Linked DNA regions of Homo sapiens. The protein of the gene in region 1 purifies or fractionates together with the protein of each later gene. This does not show direct contact. Each region holds a gene or a part of one and is shown in the gene's direction. Other genes may lie near its edges.

Region 1 (3,500 bases):
AGATGGGGAAATAGGGCCAAAGTGGGGAGTTGGAGGTTCAGGGGAAAAATATCACTGATCAGCCCTCCTGAAATAATGGCATAGACAAGTTGGAATTTGCAGGGAAATCTAGAAACCAGGCACATTTAGGTGCTAGAGTGGAACTATGAAAGGATTAGGGGTGAGAAGGTAGCTGGTGTTATGGTATAGAAGTCAGTAGAAGGCTGTTGCGTCTGCATAGCTATTGCTTCTGTAAGTGTGCTACCACCTGTTTGGTGGTGGGCTTGGAGATATTGGTCAGCAGGGCTGGTAGTTCTAGACACAAACAGGACAAGGAAGAACAAGGACAAAGTGAAACCGAGCAGCATTTCTACCTGTTACTCTTACCACCTCTAACCACAGCAACCTTTAAAAAGTCATGGCAGCTACTCCACTCCCAGCATCCAAATCTCACACAAATGTCTCTTTTGGCCAATTCTAGCCCACAACCATAAAGGGAAGTGGATTCTAAGAAACTTAATTCTTGTTAGCTAAGTTGACACAGTGTAAGCCACTATATTATACTTCTAAATTTTGTAAATTGAATTTAGTTTCAATTTTAGAAGCAATACTCATTTGACCAGGAAAAAGCAGAGGTAAGAAACATATATTACTTTATATTTTTTTAAAACATTATCAAGTATTGCCTAGTAACATACTTACTAGCACACATTTCAGAAACAGAAATCATTGATTGTAAATGCTAACTGTACTACAGAAGATTTTAGGGTGATCATACAAACATTTCTTTGTCTTCTGATGGTCAACGCAGAATTTAAGTACAATTTTTAAAACAATCATCTCTTGAGATCTTCTGAAGAAGGATCTAAGAAGAAAAAGGAAGTAATATTTACTGTACACTGCACCAAGAACTTCTGTGTGTGTTATTTCATTGAATTCGTATACCAAACCTGTGAGGCTCCTAAAAATGAAGTAACTCAAGATCAAATTCATATAAAAGGTCAAAAATTTGCCGAGAATTTAGGGTAATTTACATCTCAGTCAGGTTATCTTTTTCTCTTGACTTAGTTTTATCCTACTTTTTAAAATTTTTTACTGACAGGATAACACATAGAGTAAAATGAATAGTCTTAAGAGTACAACTTAATGAAATTTTACATATCTATGTATACATCTGTGTAATCACCATGCAGATAAAAATATAGAGCTTTTCCAATATAAGGATATTGATTTTTCCTTGGGCCTTTTGTACTTCCAGGTAAACTGCCATATGTATTTATATTTTTTATTACAATGAATAAAAAAAAATTCTTAAAAATATGCTGGGAGGAAGTGAACATTAGCAGTAAAGTAAAAATGTTAAATAGTGTGTCCCATAACTACTTTGAATGACATCTACTTATGTCACTTTCTGCTTTTATCCTGAAACAGGTAATCAGATCCTGTCCCTTGGGAGCCTCTCAAAAGATCAGATTTATCCAATGAAACTCAAGGGCATCTCCATCTGCTATTCAGCTCTCAAGTCTGCCTTGTGTGGAAATTATGTCAGCTTTGGCGTCTTCAAGTTGTATGGGGACAACCATTTTGACAATGTACTCCAGGCTTTTGTCAAAATGCTGCTGTCAGTGTCCCACAGTGACTTGCTAGTAAGCAATCATGCATCATGGGAGTGTTTGTATGAAATGTGAAGTAACACCACCACAGGCCTGGAAGTGTTATAATGAAGCCCAGGGAGTTAGCCTAGAACATTTTATGTTTTAAGACAGCATACTTGATCTAACTTACAGAATTTGGAAAACTATAGTGGCTTTTTTTTTTTTTTAGCATCTCTGCCTGATTATATAGAAACCAATATGTGCCCAATGTAGTAGCAGTAATTACTTGAGTAACATAGCCAAATCATGCTTAGGCTTAGTTCAGGCTTTCCCACCTGCTCCCACTCAAGGTTACAAGTAAAATCTGGAAGGCCTTTGTTAGTCAACCTGTGTAAGAAATGCTTCTTGATCTCCTAGTGGACTAGTGCATCATCTTCCACCTTTATAAACTAATCTTGGAATGGCTGCATCTCAAGCCAAAGAGAGGACTTCCTTGTAGTAGAATGGAATGATCATTGAAGGATATGTCTGTTAGACAGAAATTACAAAGTAGAAACTTGAGTCAAATCAGCCATATGTTAAAATCACCTCATCAAAGAGTTACTTCACTACAGTTAAAGTCCACCAAGACAACTGGTATGGTTCCAAGAATTTTTCTCTAATTTTTTTATTCTAATAGTCAAACAAACCTTCAACTCAGTAATTCTCCAACTTGAAGGTGCATAAGACTCTCTTAACGTGTGTTAAAAATATACATTTCAGAGCCTACACTAGAGCTTGTCATTTAGCGAGTCTGAAGTGGGGATCAGGAAACTGCGTTTTTAACAAGCACCCCAAGTGATTCCTATTGAGTTGGTCTTAACATCACTTTAAGAAATGCTCCTCTGGTTTCTCTTTTTTTCTTTTTTTTTTTTTAGAGGCAGGGTCTTGCTGTGTTGCCCAGCCTGTTCTTAGACTCCTGGGCTTAAGCAATTCTCCTGCCTCAGCCTCCCAAGTAGCTGGAATTACCAGCATGAACCTCCATGCCCAGCTTCTCTAATTTATCTTACAAGTGTGTTTCTTTGATACTGGTTTGGATTGCATTTGAGATTTTTCAGGTATCTTTCTCATGCACTTATCTTTTGCCTGTAGTGTATGGTAAATATTAAGCCCTTTACCAAATTATTATTTAGTTAGATGGATTAGCATTATATTAATACAACAGACTATGGTGCCAAATCCCATTATAACAGCAAATGTCTTTGTGTTTAAAAAACCAACAAAAAAAAGGTTTCCTAGCGACTGTTAAGCACTGTTCAGTGTTACAGTATTCCAATCCAGAAAAATAATTCACACAGTCTTCTAAATATCGTACTGCAGGGATTTTACTTTTAAGTGCTAACCATATAAGGTAAAGAGATCAAGCGATTCCTATCAGAACCCCTTTAAATGCTGGATTGGGACTCATTATGTCATTTGCTCTATATATTTATTGACCTTGTGTTTAAATAAGTTTACAATTTCCAGTATTATAAATGACAATTTTCACTGGACTGTAACATGTATTTTTCTTCTCTGTGGCTTGACATTTAGTATATCTCTGTGTTGTAGCAATACCGGAAACTGAGCCAGTCTTATTATCCACTCCTGGAATGTCTCACTCAGGACCATATGAGCTTCATCATCAACTTAGAGCCTCCTGTACTCATGTATGTTCTCACATCTATCTCAGAGGGACTCACTACTCTTGGTAAGGATCATAGAGGACATTGTTTCCATAGGAAAAACTTGATTATGGGCTTTTAATGTATGTGATTATTGAGACTATCATCCTACAAAGGGGGAAAAGATATTGTGAACCCAAACTGAAAGATTATAATTATTACTTGCAAGTGGGAAAAATGTATTTCTTCATATTTTGATACATAGTCAGTTATGTTTTAATCA
Region 2 (3,500 bases), about 25 Mb from region 1:
TCCACAACATTTCTTTGTCTTTTATGGATAACATTGACATATCTGAAGAATACACATCCCCCTTTTAATAGAACATTCCTTCCGGCCAGGCGCTGTGGCTCATGCCTATAATCCTAGCACTTTGGGAGGCCGAGGAGGGCAGATCATGCGGTCAGGAGATCAAGACCATTGCCAACATGGTGAAACCCCATCTCTACTCAAATACAAAAAAAAAAAAAAAAAAAAAAAATTAGCCGGGCATGGTGGCGCATGCCTGTAGTCCCAGCTACTTGGGAGAAGAATCGCCTGAACCCGGGAGGCGGAGGTTGCAGTGAGCCGAGATCATGCCACTGTACTCCAGCCTGGCAAGAGAGTGAGACTTGGTCTCAAAAAAAAAAAAGAAAAGAAAAGAAAGAACATTCCTTCCTTATTCTGAGTTTGTCTGATACTTTCCTCGTTGTTAGATTGAGGTTATACATTTTTGGTCGGAATAGGTGATGTCGTGTCTCTCTCAGTCACACATTATCTATCTGTCCTTCTTAGATGATAATTAGTTTTGATCACGGGGTCAAGGTATTGCCTAATTTCCTTATTACGTAGATTATGTAGAGTGTTTTTTTTTTCATCCTTTCTTGCAACTTTAAGCAGCATGTGGGTAAATACTTTAAGACCATCAGATAACCCTCTTGTCTAAATTTTTGCCTAGACTCGGCATCCATTGATCATTCATCCAAAACTAGATCATCCATTGATGTAAGTTTTTTTTTTTGTTTTTTTGGTTGTTTGTTTGTTTGTTTGTTTTTTGAGATGGAGCCTTGCTCTGTTGCCCAGGCAGGAGTGCAGTGGCTTGATCTTGGCTCATTGCAACCTCTGCCTTGCGGGTTCAAGTGATTCTCCTGCCTCAGCCTCCCCAATAGCAGGACTTACAGGCGTGCGCCTCCATACCTGGCTGATTTTTGTATTTTTAGTAGAGATGGGGTTTCACCATGTTGTCGAGGTTGGTCTCAAACTCCTGACCTCAGGTGATCCACCTGCCTTGACCTCCCAAAGTGCTGGGATTACAGATGTGAGCCACTGCACCCGGCCCATTGATGTAGTTTTTATCATGACGGTTGCAAAATGATGACTTTCCAACTCCACTTAGACTTAAGAACCTTTTAAATTTGATGGATGTAATTAGAGATCAGTAGCTACATTTTTGTAATTTTAAGAAAGAAAAATTTATTCCTTGCTTTCCCATGCAGGATGGCCCAACAGCAGGCCTTGAGGTTCCGAGGTCCGGCTCCCCCACCAAATGCAGTGATGCGAGGCCCACCACCTCTGATGCGACCTCCTCCACCTTTTGGTATGATGCGAGGCCCTCCTCCACCACCACGGCCGCCCTTTGGACGTCCTCCTTTTGATCCTAATATGCCGCCAATGCCTCCTCCAGGAGGGATACCTCCACCTATGGGCCCTCCACACCTCCAGGTAAAGAATGTAGAGGTTGCCATTTCTTTGTTGGCATCATTATCAATATTATATATGGGTTTTGAGTTAAAAACTTACATTCTTAAATAGTTTCAGTTTATAGGAAAATGGGAGCTAAAGAGAAGATCCATATATTAATATGTTTCTTCTGAATTAGTGGTAGCAGTAATTACTATGGAAATTCAGAATAGGACTTTAGATGGTGATAGAGAAGTATGTGTATAAAACCAGGATTCAATAGTTTTTACCTACCTTTAGCTCTGTGAATTGGCTTTAGTAATGCATCTTCTTTATGGGAAATGAAGTTTGAAATTTTAAGATATTTTTGAGTGGAGAAAATTTATTTTCAATGATATATGTTGCCAGCAAGTCTAAAAATATATGTGTATATGTTCCTGAGTAAGTCTTCCTCCTGGAAATGGTGCCTAGGATAGAATCTGGAAAGTGACAGCAAACACATTTTATAAGCACATAGTTGAATTTTTTTTCTCCCCTGGGGGGAAAATAGGGTTATCTTACTCTTTTTGAAAACGATTTATTATGGGATTTCTTTAAATAAAAACATTTATGGTATTTTAACCTGGGGCATAGATCCTTCTCCAGTGTATCCAGACTTACTGTCTGAGGTGAGGTCATGAAGGTATGAACTCTCAAATGTCTCATTTTGGGATTGTATTCTTTTTGAGTATGTATCTATGTTTTCTTAGTTTAGTCTGTATAATTCTGAAACCAAATAAATATAGTGGTATCATCTGCCTTCCATTAGCTTAGACAGTGAAGAATGAATTATACTAAAAATGGAAGAAGACAATGATGTGCCATTTAAGTGATGTTAATTCTGTTTAGGTAGGGTTGTGGTTATGGAAGAGACAGGTTTTAATACTTTGCTTAATAATTTTATGGCCTTCCTAATAACGAATAGCCTCTCCTTCCTTTAAACACACTGTTAAATGGTTTTATATTTGCTTCAAGGTTAGAATAAGAAATAGTTTTTTTAACTTATTCTGGTATAATCTTTAACGTGAATTTGTTCTAATTTGTGACTTTAAGAGTTAAACCTACTTTGGAGTATTATAAAATGTAATGGACTAATGTAACCCTCTCATTGAAATATATCAAATGTTGTGCTAAGATACTTTCTAATGTTGTCATGCCTTTCTTGGTCTTGGATAATTGTTTGGCTTTATATTAAGTCCAAGTGATTTTCAGCCAAGGGCTCATGAAACGTATTTGGGATAGATATTTTATATAACCTAGATCTGGTGTGCTGACGCTTGAAAGATACTCAACTGAATCCAGCAAAGATTGGAGTATGGGAAAGACATTTTTAGGAAAATAAAGTACAACTTCACACTATTAGCATAGTTTGAGTTCCATTATCCAGATTAAGCTGCTTTTGATAATTGAATTTTAATGTTACTTACAGCTTATAGAGGAAATCTTTTAAATCCCTGCTCAAAATGTTTTTATAATGTCATAATGTCAAATTTTTAATTTTGAAACTCATTTTTATGCACAGTGAAAACTTTTTCTTGAAGGATTCTTCAAGAAGCTGTGGAGACAGTGATGTGCCTGGTATTAAAACAGGATATAAAAATCAATTTTTTAAAAAAAGTAATCCAGCGCCCTGTGTGTGAAAATCAGATCATGTAGAAAGGAGAAAGCAGAATTCACTGACAGTGTTATAACCCAGAGTTGACCACTATTAGTAGTTTGATGTGTTTCTTTCTAGTTTGTTTGGTAATTTTTGTTGCAGACATTTTGCTTCTATGACAGGTGAATGTGTTTGAATAGACTATAAAACTAGTTTCTCTTACAGTGTTTTACTTTTGAATAGAATTCAGTAATAATTTGGAGGAAAAGTAATTAAAGTGACCATTACTGTTTTTGTGAATTAACAGAGACCACCTTTCATGCCTCCTCCCATGAGTTCCATGCCTCCTCCTCCGGGTATGATGTTTCCACCAGGAATGCCTCCTGTGACTGCTCCTGGTACTCCAGCACTACCTCCTACGGAGGAGATATGGGTTGAAAATAAAACTCCAGATGGG

The links.
Region 2: the proteins of RANBP17 (region 1) and TCERG1 purify together in Homo sapiens (affinity purification with mass spectrometry; one large-scale study listed by BioGRID and IntAct). This does not show direct contact.

The regions. Positions count from the first base shown.
Region 1 is NC_000005.10:171,239,518-171,243,017, forward strand, and holds part of RANBP17 (ran-binding protein 17), read left to right. Parts: intron 1-1,410; coding exon 1,411-1,625; intron 1,626-3,164; coding exon 3,165-3,303; intron 3,304-3,500. UniProt on the Homo sapiens protein: May function as a nuclear transport receptor.
Region 2 is NC_000005.10:146,453,833-146,457,332, forward strand, and holds part of TCERG1 (transcription elongation regulator 1), read left to right. Parts: intron 1-685; exon of another isoform or gene 686-730; coding exon of another isoform or gene 731-732; intron 733-1,223; coding exon 1,224-1,449; intron 1,450-3,350; coding exon 3,351-3,500. UniProt on the Homo sapiens protein: Transcription factor that binds RNA polymerase II and inhibits the elongation of transcripts from target promoters. Regulates transcription elongation in a TATA box-dependent manner.